Linked DNA regions of Homo sapiens. The protein of the gene in region 1 purifies or fractionates together with the protein of each later gene. This does not show direct contact. Each region holds a gene or a part of one and is shown in the gene's direction. Other genes may lie near its edges.

Evidence for each region.
Region 2: the proteins of RAB2A (region 1) and SUCLG2 purify together in Homo sapiens (affinity purification with mass spectrometry; 2 studies listed by BioGRID, with this or other methods). This does not show direct contact.
Region 3: the proteins of RAB2A (region 1) and VDAC3 purify together in Homo sapiens (affinity purification with mass spectrometry; 2 studies listed by BioGRID and IntAct, with this or other methods). This does not show direct contact.

What each region holds. Positions count from the first base shown.
Region 1 is NC_000008.11:60,588,937-60,597,717, forward strand, and holds part of RAB2A (ras-related protein Rab-2A), read left to right. Parts: intron 1-2,921; coding exon 2,922-3,033; intron 3,034-8,781.
Region 2 is NC_000003.12:67,497,613-67,505,503, reverse strand, and holds part of SUCLG2 (succinate--CoA ligase [GDP-forming] subunit beta, mitochondrial isoform 2 precursor), read left to right. Parts: intron 1-7,208; coding exon 7,209-7,370; intron 7,371-7,891. UniProt on the Homo sapiens protein: GTP-specific succinyl-CoA synthetase functions in the citric acid cycle (TCA), coupling the hydrolysis of succinyl-CoA to the synthesis of GTP and thus represents the only step of substrate-level phosphorylation in the TCA.
Region 3 is NC_000008.11:42,400,989-42,406,437, forward strand, and holds the end of VDAC3 (non-selective voltage-gated ion channel VDAC3), read left to right. Parts: intron 1-799; coding exon 800-1,027; intron 1,028-1,964; exon of another isoform or gene 1,965-2,102; intron 2,103-2,322; coding exon 2,323-2,473; intron 2,474-3,878; coding exon 3,879-3,936; coding exon of another isoform or gene 3,937-3,940; intron 3,941-4,382; coding exon 4,383-4,474; 3' UTR 4,475-4,949; downstream 4,950-5,449. UniProt on the Homo sapiens protein: Non-selective voltage-gated ion channel that mediates the transport of anions and cations through the mitochondrion outer membrane and plasma membrane.

The sequences.
Region 1 (8,781 bases):
TACTTCTTTGTGTAGAGAAGAAACTATTATCATATTCTCTGAAGGCCTTTCTTGGGTATTCTTTTCCACATTTAAATCATCTCACTAAACCTTTTTAAGGTTATAAAGCTATTGGAGGGAAGTTTTAGTCTTTCTATGATGGAAATAGTTATTCTGTCATTCAAGGTATGAAATAATAAGAGGAGAATACTTGGAAAATAAAGAGAATTTTTATCCTTTTATTTTACCAATTTTTTCCTTGTGGCTGAAACATGATGAGTGACAGCTTACTGGTGGCTTAAATTTGGTCACCGACCACTAGGAGCTGATAGTTCAAATGTGAGAAGAAATAAACAAAGCATAGTATGTAAACGAGATGTTTCTGATGATCGTAGGTGGGTGACCTTTAAAATCAGGAGTATAACGAACAAGAAAGAACAGAGAGAAATAAATGAGATGATTATTTTTAGATGAATTGAACTGTGGATAGACATCAAAACAGGGAATAAGCAATTTTTGAATTAGACGCATTAAGCAGTAGGGAGCCAGTGAAGGGCAGTGACCTAGTCAGAGCAACAGATGACACAAATTTTTCTTACTATGGCATTTTATTAATAAATTGGTTATATAAGAAATAGGAAGCAGAGATTTAAAAAATGAAAGTTTTTTAATAGTGTAAGGGTTGTAATGCAAACCCTAAACAAAAAGGGGCCATAAATTAAAAGAAAGATACTTAAGTAACCTAAGCAACTTAAGTGGGATTCAGAGGGAGTGAACTAAGACAACAATATGATGTAATGCCTGGAAAACTGAGGTATTTTTAAAACTTTGCACTAAGTATATCGTCAAGTACTATGGCTTTTGAGTTTTTTGATTTGACCTATAGTAAGAAATGTATTTTACATCATGACCTAGTAAATAAATTGTGTATACACCTACACATATAACAAAATATTCGTAAATTATACCTTTATACGTAAGTTCCATGAAACAGTAGATGGAACTTATGTATATAGGTGATAGACTCTGATATTTTATATTGTTTCTTTTTTTTTTCCCTTCCCAAGATGGAGTCTCACTCTGTCGCCCAGGCTGGAGTGCAGTGGCGCGATCTCTGCTCACTGCAACCTCCGCCTCCCAGGTTCAAGCAATTCTCCCGCCTCAGTCTCCTGAGTAGCTGGGATTACAGGCACCCACCATCATACCCAGCTAATTTTTGTATTTTTGTAGAGACGGGGTTTCACCATGTTGGCCAGGCTGGTCTTGAACTCCTAACCTGAGGTGATCCACCCGCCTTGCCTCCCAAAGTGCCGTAATTACAGGTGTGAGCCACCGCACCCGGCCTATTGTTTCTTTTTTTAAAAAAAAATTCTGATTATTTCCTACTGAGTGATTTTTACAATTCATTGAGTCATGACACAGTTTGAAAAATCCTACCCAGGCTTAACGCAGTGTCTCAGTCCTGTAGTCCTAGCAATTGGGAAGGCCAAAGTGGGAGGATCACTTGAGTCCTGGAGTTCAAGACCAGCGTGAGCAACATAGTGAGACTTTGTCTCTGAAAAAATTAAAAAAAAAAAACTGCCCTGGAAAAGCCTTGGCACGTGTATACACAAATATATATATATATTTTATATATATATGTAAAATACATATATTTTAATATATGTATTTTATATATATATAATACATATATATATAATGCTTATTGTAACATTGTTTGTAATAATGAAAAATTATAAATAACTTTGCCTTATAGAGAATTTAAGTTGTATTGCATTCATTCAGTAGACTGTAATTCACCAGTTTAAAAACAAACTAGATCTGCATGTATTATATGGATAAATTTGAAAAACATAGTGTTGACCAAAGTTAACAAGTTGTAAAACAGTAGCTACATCTGAATTTTTAAAGACATGAAAAAGAAATACTATTTATGGTTATAAACATGAGGATAAATGCAAAAACATGCATGAGAATGAAAACACCAAATTTAGGTAGTGGTTACCTTTAGGGTAAGAGGGAGGAGAGTGGGATCAGAGACACACAGGTGGTGATTCTGCTGTTGCTGATTTTATTTCTTAAAGGGAAAGAAACCTGAAATCTGGCAAATAATATGTCAAGGCTAGCTGGAAGTATGTGGACATTATATTATACATCTTTTTTCATGTATAAACATGTAATAATAAATAATATATAAAAAGTAATAAATATAATAATAAAGTTTTTTAACTTTAAAAATAAAACACGCTTTAAAAGCAACTGCTACCTCCCCTCCCCCCCACTAATAAAATTCTAGTATGATAAAAATGAATACCCTGCTTTCATTGGAAATTTCTAGCTTACACTTTCTCTCTCACTCCGTTTCTCCTTTTCTGTCTCTCTCTACTCCTTCTCCCTCCCTCCCTCCCTCTCTCTCTCTGTCTATATCAATTTTGCTTTAAGAGGAAACTGGGAATTAAACAAACTGGGATCAATGATGTAATGTATCTTTAGTACTTTGGATTTTCTAAACAATTTCCTGTAGTTTCTGAGAGTTGTATTTTAATCACATTCATAGAAACTCAGTCAGTCTGGCCAATGGAGGAGAATAGTATAGTCCTGCTCTTTCAAATTATGTTAAGCAAAATGGCTTTCTTCTCTGGGAATGCACTGTACTCAAAGATATAAGGTATTAGACTAGAGGCTCCCTTAAGTTACGGCTAGTTCTAACGTTCTAAAGCTCTAACACAGAATCTTTCTTCTGTTGGATTGTTAGTTCTTTGAAACTAGACAGTGTGTTCTAAATACTAACCCTCATAATACCCTGAATAATACAGTTAGTATGTTAAAAATTAATTAAAAGAATGGTCATCACAACTTTGAATTCCATGGTACACTTTCCACAAATGCTTCTGTTTGTACCATGTTGATTAGTAATGTGACCCTTTCTTTCCCATGTTTAGTGATTTAGAATCTAGAAGAGAAGTAAAAAAAGAAGAAGGTGAAGCTTTTGCACGAGAACATGGACTCATCTTCATGGAAACGTCTGCTAAGACTGCTTCCAATGTAGAAGAGGTAAATAAGAGGCCCTTTAAAATCTTCATCTTTATACTTAATAGAAATGTTTTATATATCTTCATTTTACTTATTATTTAAGTTTTTAGTCGGATGGTCTTTGAACATCATAAAGTAGGAAAGTTTCTTCCCTTTGAAATCCCTTGTAACATTCACCTTCTGTCAGACTCTTAAATCATATTGAGCCTTCTAAAGCCTGAATGTTTTCTTACATTTTTGTACGTATTTTCACTCCCTCCCTTTTTCTAAACAATTTCCTATAGTTTCTGAGAGTTATATTTTAATCACATTCATAGAAAGTCAGTCTGGCCAATGGAGGAGAATAGTGTAGTCCTATTCTTTCAAATTATGTTGAGCAAAATGGCTTCTCTGGGAACCCACTGTACTCAAAGATATAAGGTATTGGACTTCTTCGTGTTGCATGGTAGGGAAATCTTTTTTGTGTTGCATGGGAGGGAAACAAGGAACCACACTAATGAAATTTGGAAATGTTTCAAGACAGCAGAACGTTTGTAGCTATTTATATCCACTTCTGCTTATTTTTTTAATTTTATTTATTTTTTTAACTGTCAATATATTACCACATCACCACTTCTGCTTAAAGTATTCTATTATTGCTGTGTAACATTTTACAAAGCATGAGAATTCTGTTTCATCTATTGATGAAATTTGTATTATTTCAGTTATTTCCATTGATGAACCTGAACTATTGGAACTTTTCTGAACACAGTGTATTCTTTTATGCTCTATGTGTTTGTGTTTGGAGGTAGTATGTATATACATATTATAAATAGATGATTACGTAGTTGATCCTTTCTAAGGTAAATGTATTACTATACTGTTATTTTATAAAAAGAGGTAATGAAGCTAAGAAAAGTAGTAGTTTATCCAAAGTAATACTTAGTTCCCGATTTCTAGATAAGAACAGCTTATAAGAGCAACTACAGAAAGTAGTTCTAAAAAACAAATGAGTTAAGAATCACTGCCGTAAGGATAACAGAGGTCAGGGTCCTGGGCAACAGCTAGCATGTGCCTTCAATGTAGTAAGCAGTCAGTAAATATTTATTAAGAATGATACTTGGAGCTCTTCTGATTAACCCTTGAACCTAAAAATTGACTACAGTAATTCTACAGCATTGGTATTTTCACCGAAGAATTCTTTCTTAGGTAAAATATTATACAGTCATGTGTTGCTTGACAAAGGAGATACATTCTGAGAAATATGTCACCAGGTGATTTCATCGTCACGTGACCATCATAGAGTGTACTTACATAAGCCTAGATGGCATAGCCTACTACTGCACCTACTACACACTTCCCTTAGTAGACCTTGGTGCCAGAGGAATGACACAGTGATGATTTCCCTTGGTTTTCTTTTTGCCACATACCCGAGACTGGGTGCTAGAGAAACAGGCAACCTAGAAAGGTCAACAGGCACAGAAAAAGAAAGTCTTCTAGCCAGAGAACCAGGAAATAGGCAGGTCAGAACAGTGTTCGCAAGCCAGAACACTCTTAGAAAGTAACCATTCTACTGTAGCCAAACATCACAGAAAAAATTGTGGCTCTGCTTCCACAATCCCCAGGCAGTAATGAAGTAGCACCCTACCACCACCATTTCCCTTGTTGGAGTGGAGTGAGAGGAAGCCAACTAAACAGTGGTTTAAATAAGACCCAGAGTCTCATAACATAGTATCTAAAATACCCATGTTTCAATAGAAAATCATTCATCATACCTAGAACCAGGAAGATCTTAAATTGAATGAAAAAAAGATAATAGGTGCCAACAGTGAAATGACAGTGGTGTTTGAATTATCTTACAAAGATTTTAATGCAGCAATCATTAAAATGCCTCAACAAACAAGGAACATGCTTGAAACAGAAGAGTCTTAGCAAACAAACAATCTGAGCAAAAGAAATGCAAGATAAAAAAAAGAACCAAATAGGAATTTTAAAATAAAAAAAAATACAATAATTGAAATTTTAAAACTCTTTCAAAGCTCTTTGTACACTAGAAAAAAAAACTTAGTGAATGGACTCAACAGCAGAATGGAGATAAAGGAAAGAAATAGTGAACTGGATGATAGAACAATAGTAACTACTTAGTCTAAACTGCAGAGAGAAAATTGAGGAAACAAATGAACACTACCTCAGGGACTTATAGGACTGTAACAAAAGCTGACGTTATATGATGCATCATAAGTCCTAGAAGGAGAGGAAAAAGGAATGGCTCTGAAAAATACTCAAAGAAATAATGGCTGAAAACTTCTTAAATGTGGCAAAAAGTATATAAACCTACAGATTGAAGACAGCCCCAAAGAGGTTAAACCCAGACAAATCCACATGATGACGAACCTCTGTATGGTCAAATTTCTGAACGTGAAAGACAGAAAAAAAAATCTTGAAAGCAGCAAAAAATAGCACCCTACGTATAGGGGAAAAACAGTTCTAATGATAGCAGATTTCTCATCAGAAACCATGGAGGACAGAGAAAATAGCACAGTGATTTTTGTTTGTTTGTTTGTTTTTATTATACTTTAAGTTCTAGGTTACATGTGCACAACGAGCAGGTTTGTTACCTAGGTATATATGTGCCATGTTGGTTTGCTGCACCCACCAAGTAATCATTTACATTGGGTATTTCTCCTAATGCTATCCCTCCCCCAGCCCTTCAACCCCCAACAGGCCCCGGTGTGTGATGTTCCCTGCCCTGTGTCCAAGTGTTCTCATTGTTCAGTTCCCACCTATGAGTGAGAACATGCGGTGTTTGGTTTTCTGTCCTTGTGATAGTTTGCTGAGAATTATGGTTTCCAGCTTCATCCATGTCTCTGCAAAGGACATGAACTCAACTTTTTTATGGCTGCATAGTATTCCATGGTGTATATGTGCCACATTTTCTTAATCCAGTCTACCATTGATGGACATTTGGGTTGGTTCCAAGTCTTTGCTATTGTGAATACTGCCACAATAAACATACGTAGCACAGTGTTTTGCAAGAGCAGAAAGAAAAGAACTATCAGCCCAGAATTCTTTACCCAGCAAAGAAAAAAAAGAATTAGCAATGAAGGTGCAATCAAGACATTCTTAGAGAAGGAAAAACCAAGAATTTATTAGTAGCAGATTTGCATAAAAGAATGGCTAAAGGAAGTTTTCTAATAGAAGTGAAATGATTGAAGAAAGAATCTTAGAACACCATAAAGGAAGAAAAAAACATAAGAAACAAAAATATGGATAAATATGATAGACTTTTTTCTTCAAGTCTTGCAAATTATGTTTGATGTTTGAAGTATAAACAAGTAACCACTGTCTGATGTGATTATCAGTGTATTCCACAATATTATAAGCCATGGGGAATAAAGGGATTTGATTAGCCCACAGGAAGGCAGGAGAAGGAAAATAGAAAACAAAGTAAAATGTCAGATGTAAGCCCTCATATATCAATAACTAAATGTTGGTGGTCAAAATACACAAATCAAAAGGGATTAGCAGAGAGAATTTTAAAAACAATGACTTAGCTATATGGTATTTATAAGAAACTCACTCCAAATACAACAGTACAGTTAGGTTGAAAATAAAATGATAGGAAAAGTTATACAAATATTAATCAAAGGAAAACAGGAGTAGCTATATTAATATCACATAAACTTAAGGGCAGAAAAAAATTATCAGAGTGGGACATTATATAATGATAAAAGAATCAGCCCTCCAGAAAGATGTGACAGTGCTAAACATGCGTGTACCAGATATGTGAAGCAAAAACTGATAGACTGCGAGGAGAAATAGAGAAATTCACAATTACGGTTGGAGACTTCAGCATCCCTTAGGTGCTCACAGAATATATACCAAGATAGACCGTGTCCTGGGCCATAAAATAAACCTCAATAGATTTTAAAGTATTGAAATCATACGGAATGTATTCTCCAAACAAAATGGAATTAAACTAGAAATCAGTTTAACAGAAAATAGGAAAATCTACAAATACTTGGAAACTAAACAGTACGCTTCTGTGTGTCAGTGAGCAAGTCTTGAATTACAAAAAACACATTGAACTGAATGAAAATACAACATACCAATTTGTGGAAAATAGCTAAAACAGTGTTACGAGAGGGAAATGTATATCATTAAATGCACACAATAGAAAAGAAGAAGTCTCTTCCTTATACGTTATACAAAAATTAACTCAAGATGGATTAGAGATTTAAACATAAGACCTAAAACCATAAAAACCCTGGAAGAAAACCTAGACAATACCATTCAGGACATAGGCATGGGCAAAGACTTCATGACTAAAACACCAAAAGCAATGGTAACAAAAGCCAAAATTGACAAATGGGATCTAATTAAACTGAAGAACTTCTGCACACCAAAAGAAACTATCATCAGAGTGAACAGGCAACCTACAGAATGGGAGAAAAATTTTGCAATCTATCCATCTGACAAAAGGGCTAATATCCAGAATCTACAAAGAACTTAAACAAATTTACAAGAAAAAAACAACCCCATCAAAAAGTGGGCGAAGGATATGAACAGACACTTTTCAAAAGAAGACATTTATGCGGCCAACAAACATATGAAAACTCATTATTACTGGTCATTAGAGAAATGCAAATCAAAACCACAATGAGATACCATCTCATGCCAGTTAGAATGGCAATCATTAAAAAGTGAGGAAACGGCCGGGCGCGGTGGCTCATGCCTGTAATCCCAGCACTTTGGGAGGCTGAGGTGGGCGGATCACAAGGTCAGGAGATGAGACCATCCTGGCTAACAGGGTGAAACCCCATCTGTATTAAAAATATAAAAAATTAGCCAGGCGTGGTGGCAGGCGCCTGTAGTCCCAGCTACTTGGGAGGCTGAGGCAGGAGAATGGCATGAACCCAGGAGGCGGAGCTTGCAGTGAGCCAAGATCACACCATTGCACTCCAGCCTCGGCGACAGAGTGAGACTCTGTCTCAAAAAAAATAAAAGTGAGGAAACAACAGATGGTGGAGAGGATGTAGAGAAATAGGAACACTTTTACATTGTTGGCGGGAGGGTAATTCAGTTCAACCATTGTGGAAGACAGTGTGGCAATTCCTCAAGGATCTAGAACCAGAATTACCATTTGACCCTGCAATCCCATTACTGAGTATATACCAAAAGTATTATAAATCATTCTATAAAGATACATGCACAGGTATGTTTATTGCAGCACTGTTCACAATAGCAAAGACTTGGAACCAACCCAAATGCCCATCAGTGATAGACTGGATAAAGAAAATGTGGCACATATACACCATGGAATACTATGCAGCCATAAAAAGGGATGAGTTCATGTCCTTTGCAGGGGACTTGGGTGAAGCTGGAAACCATCATTCTCAGCAAACTAACACAGAAATAGAAAACCAAACACCGCATGTTCTCACTCATAAGTGGGAGTTGAATAATGAGAACACATGGACACAGGGCGGGTAACATCACACACCAGGGCCTGTTGGGGGGTGGGGGCCTAGGGGAAGGATAGCATTAGGAGAAATACCTAATGTGGATGATGGATTGATGGGTGCAGCAAACCACCATGGCACGTATATACCTATGTAACAAATCTGCACATGTATCCCAGAACTTAAAGTATAATTTAAAAAAACAAAAGAAAAGAAGTCTCAAAATAATTTTAACTCCTACTTCAAGAACCCAAAGCAAAATAAACCATAAAAAAGAAAAACCCAAAATAAATAGAAAGGAGGGAATATTAAAGATAAGAGCAGAGAT
Region 2 (7,891 bases), on another chromosome or scaffold:
CGGAGAAAGAACTGCAGTCCAAGAGCTCTTTTTTCCTATGTGATTAATAATCTGATTCAAAAAATATAATTTGACACTACTAACTGCAATGTAGTTTAGTGACTCTTAGCTAGGATTATAATGGTTGCTAATGACAGAAAGTTATATTAGCTTTGTTTTTGTTAAAAAGTTATATTCCTGTAACAGGGAAGTCTAAGGTGTGGACTGGCTTAAGGCCTGAAGAGAATCAGGGATTTGCTGGTTCTCCAGCCCTGCTTGCCTCCAAATTGGCTTCTTTCTCAGCCAGGCTCTCAGAAGCTGGCAGCAAAGATGGCTCCCAGTGCTCCATAACTCTCCCTCAGCAGCCCCATAAATCCCTTCAAATGATTCTCATTGACCCTGCTTGGGTCACATGTCTATGCCCATGCCAGCCACTGAGCAAGAATCATATGGTATAGGAGACATACAGTTTCTTAATGGAAGAAGGGACACTGAGTCAAAACATGCCTACCAGAAAGATGCAACCTTATTGAAACAAAAATAAACTGTTACTTAGTCAATAGAAATTAATCGTTATTTTCCTTGTTTGTCCAAATGCAGTGCCAATTCATTCATTAATTCTGCAGCCAAGCAAGAAGCAATGTTTTATCATTATTTATTTATTTATCTACCTGCGCATTCATGTATTCATTCATTCATTTTGCTAGCCACTGTGAAATTTCATGTCATATTTCTTCTCACCTTCAGCCAGCTCTATCTGTACACAGACTCCTTTTTCTGATGTCTTTAAAGCAAGTTGTACTCCATGGGAAGGGTGGGCATTTTGTCCCCCAGGGAACATTTTTAGTCATCACAACTTGGAGGCTATGCTACTGGCGTGGATAATGCTAAACTACAACGCACAGGATGGTCCCTGTTCACAGAGAACGACCTCACCCAATCTGTCCATAGTCTAGAGATTAAGAATTCTTGCTTTGGGGCATCTTCATCAGTTGGAAGCTGAAATCCATTCACTGGGCCAAAGGAATGAGATCCAATTTGAAGCAGTGACTATCTGGCTAAGATTCCGTGAGAATTAAAGCTGGGTGATCCACAGTTAACTGGCACATCAAATTCCTTTCTTTCTTCGGATTGATTTCCCTAAATAACCACCCCGTTGCTTCTTGTTAGCAAGTGCCCATGTTGTTGGTGGGTGTTTCTCTGTTTCTGTCTTTATACACAAGACTCTATTTTCAAGAACATTTTCGGTTCTCTACCTCCCCCAACCCCCCTACCCACCCCATACCTATTTTCTCTTTTCACAGCCACTAAAAAAAAGTTCTAAAAAGTATACAACTCTCAGAACATCAATATTTAATGGGAAGTGGGACTAATTTGAAAGTATCAGCATTTTAAGGCCATTTTGGCAAGGCGTGTTTCAATAGTACATTATGGTTATTTATCACAAATCAAACGCAGTACGTTGCTTGAAGACAGATTATTTTTCAAACTAATTATGATAGTCTTATTTCCTGCTGTTTTATGTTCCTTTTATGTGTAAGTTTCCCCTCTGAAATGTATTCTTCTTTTGTTTAATTCTGTGACACATTCTTCTGTTAAAATTCTAGGGTCAGAGGCCTCTAACTGCCAGTCATGTTTTCTATCGAGATTGTTGAATTAGCAGCTCACAGAATCTCACGCCACTAAACAAAACAACAAAACACCCTATGCATATAAGTACCACAGCTTTCTTTGATATTCGTTCAGAAGGAAAATACATTTGTATAATCTATCAAGCATGTAACAATGTGCTTTTGATGGTGAAAATTGTTTTATAAATATTAATAGGTATGTTTCTTTCACCCACTTTGTATAAAAAATGGCCTTTGTTCAAGATGAATTTTCTTTAGAATTGAGTTTCATTAATGTGACGTTGACAATCTTAAGGTCCGGACCAAGCTCAGCACCTCTGAAAATGCATTTTGTATTGTTTGTTGTTTTATTAAATGAGAAAGCTAAGGGTTTAAGCAGGCAAGTTTATTTTATCGCCCTGCTGTTGACATAGACATCAATCCATTTTTAACACGTCAATTCAAGAAGTGCATTTAGAAGCGTCTTACAGGAGGAAATAAGCATGTAAGAGTCAGTTAGTATTCCAGGATTAATCTACTCCTTTTGCGTAGCCACAGGTTTTTATTTATTTTCTTTGTTATTTTACTTTTTTTTTGGTTTTCATGTTAATGGAATGCACTTTTTCTAAGTTTCTCCTTCACTATAAAATATGACACCTGTGTATCTATCACTTGGTTCACACAAGTGGATACAAGTGTGAGAACTGTGACTTAGCAGGGATTGGCAAACTTTTTCTGTCAAGGACCAGTTAGTAAATATTTGGGGGTTTGCGGGCCATACAGTCTGTATTGCAACTACTCACCTCTGCTTTTGTCTTGGGAAGGCAGCCATAGGCAATATGAACGAGGCTATGTTCCAATCTGTTATTCATAAAAATAGGGCTGGCTTGAGGGTCTTAGTTGCTACCCTTTGCTTAGATCTTCATTTGGAGCTATTCTGTACCAATCTTTAGCCTTGGCCTTATGCACAGGTGTGATGTGATTTGAGAGTCACCAACAGCCTATTTTACCCTTATCTTTTAGCCAAAAATCTTGTTTTCTACTATTTATGATGCCTAAAATGCCAACTATTAATATTCTTCCTTTGGGAAAATTCTTATTCATTCAGAAGATGGCTTTTTATTGAAAACCATGGGTAACCTGTACATATGTAAACTATGGGAGACATTTGCTTAGATTTGCTCTAAACAGAAATCTCAGATTATAAAGGAACAGATAATTTTTATTGTTAGGAAGAGAGGAGAGTTCTGTAGCCTGGGCTACAATAATGGGAAGCTCTTAAGTATAAAAAAGCATGTGCATATTAGAGGGTGGTGTGGTCGTCTAACAACCTGCTAGTACCCACTGTCTAGGAAGCTAAGCGCTTTGCATACAATCTCTCCTGCCACCAACACCTAGAGTAGAACATACTCTGATCCCCATTGTATAGACAAGGCTCGGGTTTAAGAGAGGTTAATGTGCTTAAGGATAGCTGGCTAGGAAGTGCCAGGAGTTGTCATTTATACCCTGATATTTTTGATGCCAGTCTATATTAAGTGGTCAGGTTCAAGGAAAATCATTTAGATGGCACAACATTGTAGATAGTAAGATAGGAAAGCACTTTGTTTGTTTGGTACTATGTATAATAGGGAAAAACAAACATTTTTCTCCTACCAAACTCTCAACACAGAAGAACACTTCTTGGACCAGATGTGTGAGTTTTTCCAACACTGACTAATCTCTGACACTAGCTAGGTATCCTATGATTCAATTCAATTCTTTTACCATCTACCTGGAATTAGAGTCAGATCCCATAGGTTAAGGGGTCAGTCTTATCAGACTGACTCCACTTTGGATGTCATTTGTAAGACCAAGCCTCTGGTACTTCTGATGAACCAGCTGTAAATTGGGGGTTCTTAGGACTCCCTCCTTGTGCCCCATCATTTACTAGAATGGCTCTCAGAACCCAGGGAAGCACTTTACTTACTACTGCTGATTTATTATAAAGGTTATTTTATTTTTTATCTTATTTTTTTATAAAGGATATTTTAAATGATACAAAGGAATAGCCAGATGAAGAGGTATATGGGGCAGGGTATGCATGAAGGGGTGACAAGCTTCCCTGTACTCCACAGGTGAGCCACCCTGTAGCACCTCCCTGTGTTTGGCAACCTGTAAGCTCTCCAGTCCCCTGGAGTTGAGAAATTTTTATGGAGGCTTTATTACATAGGGATGATCTGTTATTCTTTCTGGAGCATGGAGGTGGGGCTGAAATTTCCAAGCTTCTAATCATAGTTTGGTCTTTCTGGCGACCAGCCCCATACAGAAGCCTCCACCAAGACTTACCTTAATAGAACAAAAGACTCTCCTATCTCCCAGAAAATCCCAAGGGATTAGGAGCTCTGCATCAGGAATCAGGGTCAAAGGCCAAATGTTAGAACACAAGATTCTCCTAGCACCCCTATTGCTTAGGAAATCACAAGGGTTTTAGAGCTCTATGCTAGGAATTAGGGATGAAGACCAAAATAATATATTTATTATAAATCACAGTATCACAGACTACTTTTAAAATATAAAACAGGCGTAACAAATATGTGTCTGAAAGAATCCCTTTACATCCTTAAAGTTTTTCTTCCCTTACCCACTAAGTAAAGACTGGGGTCTTGAAGGTGGCAGTTCAATTTGAATCCCCTTTCTTAAGTCCTAAGTCCTCTAAATAAATTACTTCATATTTAGGTAGTGTTTTTAACTTCCCAAAACACTTAGACATACATGCAATGATCCAATTAGGTTGTTTAGTTTTCTCTACAAATTAACAGTCGGCACAGGACCGTTGTAGATATACACCCCTTTTATCCCATAGTCACCATCTTGAAGCTCTGGGTTAACTGCAAAGTTCTGTCAAGATTGTTCCCTGGAGAGAACGTCATACCACAGAAAAACATCCTCTGAAAATCTAGCTTTGCAGGCATTTAGTTGGGATTGCCTTTTGAACTTTGAATACATACCCATTAATTATTCTCTCTCTGAAGCAGCTTGTAACTGTAGTCTTTGTAAGGAGCAAAGGTCAGCTTGAAACTATTTTGATTTACTTGTTTATTGATCTCAACCAAGAATTCCTTTATTTGAAACTCTTCCCTTAGGAAGTCAATTTGATAACCTTAGCCCATTCATTTTGAAGGTGTCAGTTATAAGTAGTCTTGCCAATGAGTAATGGAGGAGCTAAAATTACTAATAAATTAATTAGAATGCATTTATAAACCTAGTGGAAAGCCATGTACGAAGTTGCTTTTTTATTGATTATTATACCAGTCATTAACTGCTGAGAAAATTCCCCTGTAGCAAGCAGAGAACATTGGCCAATTCGTTTGGTAATTGTAGGATTCTGTCAATAAGCTTTCAATATTTTGGAAAGTAATTACTCATTCACTCCAACCATTCACAATGTGTGGACAAAGTGGTTGGGCATTTTGGGGCAAGACTAAGGATTTAAGCAGACATTAACTTCCATATAAGATTCTCTCTTGTCGCTCAGTGCTACTTTAAGTCATGTGCGGTCTATATATATACTTATAACAAGTATTCTTAGATGTTAATATGCTGGTCTACACAGATTTGTATCAAAGTGCTTGAATATTGTGGTAGGGAAACCCTTGGAGAAAACCCTCTACCTGGGGTCTCTAACGCCAAGATGCCATATACAGCCATGTTTTATTTTCATAAGAAGCAAGTATAATTAGGAGATTATAGCCACTGCTTTTCAGTGAGTGAGAAATGTTCTGTGGCTGTTTCCCTTTCAAGAGTCAGGTGCCTGTCAGCAATGCTGGAGGAGAATAGGTAGTATCTGTAAATTATTGTTCAAAGATTCCTGGCTATCAATATCCCAAGTTAAGTAAAAGAACATTGGCCAGGTGCAGTGGCTCACACCTGTAATCCCAGCACTTTGGGAGGCTGAGGTGGGCAGATCACAAGGTCAGGAGATCGAGACCATCCTGGCTAACACGGTGAAACCCCATCTGTACTAAAAATACAAAAAATTACCTGGGCATGGTGGCACATGCCTGTAGTCCCAGCTGCTTGGGAGACTGAGGCAGGAGAATCGCTTGAACCTGGGAGGTGGAGGTTATAGTGAGCCGAGATTGCGCCACTGCACTCCAGCCTGGGCAGCAGAGTGAGACTCTGTCTCCGAAATAAATAAATAAATAAATAAATAAACAAACAAACAAACATTATGATGACATGGCATCACAGAACACTAATTTCTACACTAAGAGAGATAATAAAAGGGGTCAGATACCCAGATACCAATAATGCCACCCTCTCCACTGCAGTCTCTCCCTGATTGTATGTATAGGAGATCTGTAAATCAAGGAAAGTGCCCTGTAGTCTGTCTCCTATTATGGAATGAGTTTTGCTGGGTCCAGGAGATTTCCACCAGCTCCAGAAACTAGAGACAATTGTGCTAATAATGCCTGGCATCCTGGCTTTGTGACTGACCAGTCTTGGTCTTTTCGTGTCTTATAACTTGAATCTGAAGCACCATAAGATGGTCCTGCACGAATCAAGGGCATGGCCCTTGTTTTAAGGATTGTTATTGCCATTTTTTCCAATTAAAAAACCAAGGCCCAGAGAAGAACTAGGTTATTTTATCAAGGTTACAGAGTTAGTAATGTATGCTGGAAATTGCTAAAAGTATATATTTTAAGTGCTCTCCCACACCAAAAAGAAAAACCAAAAACTATATGAGAAGATGGATGTGTTAATTTGCTTCAGTGTAGTAATCATTTCACTGTGTTTAATTATTTCACTGTGTTATATGTATATCAAAACATGATGTTGTATGCTTTAAATACACAGTTGTCCCTCAATATATGCAGGGAATCGGTTCCAGGAATCTCAGATATACCAAACTTCGTTCATATTGCACAATTCCTGCAGTTGGCCTTGCAGAACCCATGTATGTGAAAAGTCGACCCTCTGGGGCTTTACATCTTGAGAATAAAAATCCAGCTATAAGTGGACCCTCACAGTTCAAACCCATGTTGTTCAAGACTCAAGTGTATACAATTTTTATTTTTAATAAATGTTACAGAGTTAGTTAAGGATCAAATAAAAATCGAGCGATTCTAGTCTGGCATTCTTTCCACTAAATCTTTTGGAAATACTAGACAGGATACTGATTCAATAAAAATTTCACTTTACCATATCAAGAAAAGGACAATAGGGGACAAAATAATTAATAATATTGTCTAGTCTCTCTTTACATAGAAGAGAAAGGTGATAATTAGTGGTTAAATACTAAAAATATATAATAAAAATAATGAATCAAAGCTGTATCTATGAAGCTGTGCCAGTCTGTAACTTTTAATGGTTGATGGCAACTTTTGGGGTTATTCTATTGAAATGAGAACAACAGGTAGAAATTACTATGTTCTTTACTAGAACGTAAGTCCCTTGACAACAGGGACCAAACCCTAAAATTTAAAGGTCAAGAAAGCCAAAGCAGCCTCTCCTGCCTGTAACATGTGAAAAAAAATGACAGTACTTAACTTTCCCTTCGCTTGTGCCTACCAGCCTGAAGAACTTAATTTATAGATCCTCAAGAGATATTCAAGTATGATTGTTTTCTTCTTTATTTAGTTGTCTGTTTTGATGCCAAGATAAACTTTGATGACAACGCAGAATTCCGACAAAAAGACATATTTGCTATGGACGACAAATCAGAGAATGAGCCCATTGAAAATGAAGCTGCCAAATATGATCTAAAATACATAGGACTAGATGGGAACATTGCCTGCTTTGGTAAGAAGCAGTTATATCAAAAGAATGCTTTGTGGATTCTTATAGAATTTAGGAAACCTTGATTTCTGAAATGTCACTTACCAAGAAGAAGTAAGCACATAAGTTTTTTTGTAGCTGAAAAGTCTTAGGAAAGTATCCAAGTTTCTTCTCAAAGTTGTTTTGATTAATGGTCACTGGTGTAAAGCAGAATTTCTCAACTCTGGCACTATTGGGAGTTTGGGTGGGATAATTCTTTACTGTCCTGTACATCATAAGATGTTTAGCATCCTAACCTCTAGATACTACTAACAACCCCCACTTGTGAAGACAAATAAACCCATGTAAATCAATAAATTAAAATAAATGTCTTCAGACAGTTCCAAATGGCTGTGGTATGCAAAAATCACCCCAACTGAGAAATATTGACTTAAAACATCTCAGTTAAACTTTGCTTAGTAAAAAATTAGAACCTTTGCTGCTCAACTCAGTATTAATATGCAGAACTCTTCTGAAATTTAGGTTTAAAACAAAATTCCTTTATC
Region 3 (5,449 bases), about 18 Mb from region 1:
ATTGGAATAGGGTTATTAAGAACTAATTTCATTTTTTCAGTATTGTCCTTCAAAAAAGCATGCTTCTCTCCATGATAGGTTAATAATGTATATTGGGGATTAATTCTTTGTGGCATTTGGCATTTGGAAACATTTAAAGAGATTTGGCTTCTTGTACGTCTGTATACATACACCTTCAGATTATTAATTTGGCACTGAAATATCTTATTCATTCTTTTTTTTTCTTTTGAGACGAGTCTCGCTCTGTCGCCAGGCTGGAGTACAGTGGCATGATCTTGGCTCACTGCAACCTCTGCCTCCCAGGTTCAAGTGATTCTCCTGCCTCAGCCTCCCAAGTAGCTGGGACTACAGGCGTGTGCCACCACGCCCAGCTAATTTTTGTATTTTTAGTAGAAACGGGGTTTCACCATGTTGGCCAGGATGGTCTCAATCTCCTGGCCTCGTCATCCGCCCACCTTGGCCTCCCAAAGTGCTGGGATTACAGGTGTGAGCCACCACACCCAGCCTCTTATTCATTCTTATACTTTTGTTCATGCTTTTATGAAATAAATCATGAAGTATCCTATCATTTGAACTTATAATGAGTAATAGATGATAGTAGTCTATACATGTCTAATCCTAACAAAATTATATTTGTAGAACTAGGTCATTTGAAATGTTTTTACTATATATGTGGCATGTACCAAAATAATATTTACATTGGGAGATGAGAGAGAGGATCTTACTCTAAAAATTCCTAGACAGTAGTAAGAACTCATGTTGTTTTCATCATTTGCTTTTGTTTGTTTGTTTATTGCAGAAAGAAGAGTGGGAAATTGAAGGCCTCCTATAAACGGGATTGTTTTAGTGTTGGCAGTAATGTTGATATAGATTTTTCTGGACCAACCATCTATGGCTGGGCTGTGTTGGCCTTCGAAGGGTGGCTTGCTGGCTATCAGATGAGTTTTGACACAGCCAAATCCAAACTGTCACAGAATAATTTCGCCCTGGGTTACAAGGCTGCGGACTTCCAGCTGCACACACATGTGTGAGTGTTTATAATTTATTCCTTAGTATCAGTGCAGTTGCCCAAAATATTGTAGCCATTAGCATGCTGAGAAGTGATGGTACTCAGATTTAGCATGCCTTGGTGAATATCCATCCTTGCGGTGCTATCCTCATAGCAAAACCTTGCCAGGAGGCTGGTGCACGTGGTGTGCAGGCTGTGCTGCTGGTGGTCACTGGCCCCTCAGCCTGCACCCCAAACTTGAGGAAGCTCCAGCCTCTGTAGAAGAACCACTGGGATAGAGGGAGCCCAGAGCATGGCTTACCTCATGGTAAGATGACCCTTTGGAGATGTTACTGCTTCCTCTGCTGCCCTCTCATCTTGACAGTATCTGGAAGCAGGTCTGTTTTGGTCACCAACAACCACCACCAAATTGATCTGAGCATCCTGGGACATCCCGGTAATTCTGTGGAGGTTTCAGGTACTGGTATTCTCGGTTGGAACCCAGGTACCGCTAATGCATTCAGAAGTAACAGGTGCTCTGAAAGAGTCCTGGGATTCAGTTATGTAGGCTGCACCATGTTGGTGGGATGAATCAGAACTTTTACGTAGTATTTTATGTTGAGCCTACTGGACACTGCTACTATACCAGGAAGAAAAAGCAAAGGGCAAACTATGTGTTTTTAAACTGTTGCAGATTCCTCTCTGCTAGATGCTCTAATTTACTTATGATGGCTAAAACAAAGGCAAGCAGTGGTATAGACAGTTACTGAAATTGATGAAACAGTATTATCAGGAAAACCATGTGAAAACCCAAGGACTCACCTCTGGCATGCTTGGAAGCAATAACTAAGGTGGTTTTCTGGAGCAGTGCACCCTAGGTATCGTAGGAGGGTGCTTTCTAACTGTAGGATTGTGTTTTAAAGGAAATCCAGAATTGGTTTTATTCCTATACCTCTACCTTTTTATTTTTTTGCAGAATCTTTATTGAACTCTACTTTGAAGTTTCTAAGTTCTATGAACTTCTCAGAGACCTATAGATTATACTTACCCGAGGTGTCTGCCTTTGTGCTTAATTGAATTGTCTTAAGAAACTCACATCATGTGGAGGAGCCAAGTAAATGGATCAAGTGTTAACGTTTTAATTAAGCAGTCATTACTGGCATAGCTGGATTTAGTTCTGTGTTTTGTTTAGTAGTCATTTATGCTAGAAATTTGCTGAAATCTATAGTTACAAAATGGGATCCTTGTTTAGATAGTCTTAGAATTTGTTTTCATACCATAATAACAATGGTACAAACTAGATATTTATGACGTTTTCTTATCTATGAAAACAGGAACGATGGCACTGAATTTGGAGGTTCTATCTACCAGAAGGTGAATGAGAAGATTGAAACATCCATAAACCTTGCTTGGACAGCTGGGAGTAACAACACCCGTTTTGGCATTGCTGCTAAGTACATGCTGGATTGTAGAACTTCTCTCTCTGTAAGAATGTGCTGCCAGATTGGATCTGCTCTTATGTTTGTGTCTAAGTTTTCAGAGAATGTTGTGATATGAGTGTAGTTTGCTTGTTCTTTATTAATTTTAATAAGCCAGCTCATTGTGTAGTGAAAGGAATATAATGTGGCCAGGCTCACGCCTGTATTCCCAGCACTTTGGGAGGCCAAGGTGCATGAATCACCTGAGGTCAGGAGTTCAAGACCAGCCTAGCCAACAAGGTGAAACCCTGTCTTTACTAAAAATACAAAAATTAGGTGGGCGTGGTAGGTGACGCCTGTAGTCCCAGCTACTAGGGAGGCTGAGGCAGGAGAATTGCTTGAACCCTGCAGATGGAGAGGTTGCAGTGAGCCAAGATCACACCATTGCACTCCAGCCTGGGTGACAGAGCGAGAGCCTATCTCAAAAAAAAAAAAAAAAAAAATTATGCTTGACGTCAGGAAATAGGGGTTCTTCTAGTCCTAGCTCTTCCTGTATATCTGTTGTCTGACCTTGTCATTTTATCACTTTGGCCTCAGAATTTTCTTATTTGGAAATTCATGGGATTAGATGACTATTTCTGTTGCTATAGTAACTCTTACTAAAAATAACACTGAGCTGTTAAATTTCATGTACTGTGCTAAGGGCTTTATGTATATTATGTCATTTAACGCTCACAACCACTCCATGTGGCGATTAGTGTTATCCTCATCCCTGTTTTACAGATGAGAAAACTGAGCCTTAGAAAGGTCAGCTAACTTGCCTAAGGTCACATAGTAACTGGCAGTGCCACAATTGAACCTAGGTCTGTTTTTCTGTCACCCAAGTTCATGCCGTAACCACTGTGAGAGATTGTCAGCTGGTATCTCAGAGAATTCAGGGTGTTTGGTTGTGTAGTGTTTAAAAATTTTGCTTGAGGCCTTGAAGCATGCATTCTCAGGGTACGTCCTACCCCTACAAGTCCTACTGACTTCTTAATCAGTAATTCCGGCTGGGCACGGTGGGTCACGCCTGTAATCCCAGCACTTTGGGAGGCTGAGGCAGGGGATCACCTGAGGTCAGGAGTTTGAGACCAGCCTGGCCAACATGGTGAAACCCCGTCTCTACTAAAAATACAAAATTAGCCGGGCATGGGGGCGCATGCCTGTAATCCCAGCTACTTGGGAGGCTGAGGCAGGAGAATGGCTTGGACCCGGGAAGCGGAGGTTGCAGTGAGCCGAGATCGTGCCATCGCACTGCAGCCTGGGTGACAAGAACAAAACTTCATCTCAAAAAAAAAAAAAAAAAAAATCAGTAATTCTAGATTGGCCCTAGGGTGCTTTTAGCATTGGAAACCTAATGCACAAAGTGATGGTTATATTGGACTGATCTGTAATTCACTGTTTTCTGTTATTATTCTATCTCTTAATCTTAGGCTAAAGTAAATAATGCCAGCCTGATTGGACTGGGTTATACTCAGACCCTTCGACCAGGTAAGTAAAGGAATTAGTAACAGAGGGGTTGAGGTGGAAGGTGATAGAGAAAACAATGAAAATAACCTGCAGAACAACCTGTAGTCACTGTAAGTTGATTTGGACCATTTTGTAACATTTGGTTGTTCAGACAGAAAACAATACAGATCAAATACTTTTGCATTAAAAAAGTATGTATTTCTGACTATAATGTGGTCACTTTGGCCTTTGAGTTTGGTTGATCACTCATTGCCCTTAACCCTGAACTTCAGAGAAAGTTTGCCATGATCATGCTTTCCTCATTACACATCAGATAGTTATAAATAACCGATTGAGTAATAGCTGTTTGCTTATAGCTCGTATACCCAGCTACAATCCACACCATTGATTCCATCTGTTGTTTCTAGAAAGTTCAGATCTAATTGTAATACTTGTTTCAAGTGATTGTGGTGTTTTCTTCTTCCTAGGAGTCAAATTGACTTTATCAGCTTTAATCGATGGGAAGAACTTCAGTGCAGGAGGTCACAAGGTTGGCTTGGGATTTGAACTGGAAGCTTAATGTGGTTTGAGGAAAGCATCAGATTTGTCCCTGGAAGTGAAGAGAAATGAACCCACTATGTTTTGGCCTTAAAATTCTTCTGTGAAATTTCAAAAGTGTGAACTTTTTATTCTTCCAAAGAATTGTAATCCTCCCCACACTGAAGTCTAGGGGTTGCGAATCCCTCCTGAGGGAGATGCTTGAAGGCATGCCTGGAAGTTGTCATGTTTGTGCCACGTTTCAGTTCAGTTCTGAAGTGTTATTAAATGTGTTCCTCAGCGACAGTGTAGCGTCATGTTAGAGGAGACGATCTGACCCACCAGTTTGTACATCACGTCCTGCATGTCCCACACCATTTTTTCATGACCTTGTAATATACTGGTCTCTGTGCTATAGTGGAATCTTTGGTTTTGCATCATAGTAAAATAAAATAAACCCATCACATTTGGAACATAACTGCTCATGTGACTTGCTGGTGATGGTTTTCTTACCTTGATGTGATTTGTTTTAAGAAGCACTTTCACAGGCGAGATTTGTGTCTAAAGTATCAGGGCTGCCGTCTGTCCCTTTCACTTCACTGACCCCTGCTCTTCTCTTGCTCTCACAGGGCAGGCTGAGGAAGGAAGCAGTGAACATGGTTGTGCTGGGGAGTGGCACATCTGTTGTGCTTGTGGTGTGACAGGGTTGCTTCACCCCGGGAGTTGTGTGCAGCTGCTGAGAAAGTGTGGATGTGAGCGGGTGAAAAGACAGTTGAGGGACGAGTGCATTTGGGGAAGCATGGGGAGGAGAGACGGTGGGAGGAGGCCAGAGCTGGGTGGACACTTCTGGGACTCCTCCTGGGCTTCAGAAACATGATTTTTGATTACTAGTATAGAAAAATGATAACCAAGGAATGAAGTACCAGTTTAGAGAAGAAATGAGCAGACTATAAAATCCTCAGGGCTCACTGGTAAATCATCTTCCTAAAAGTAGAACTCCTTTTGAAAATCTTTTTTT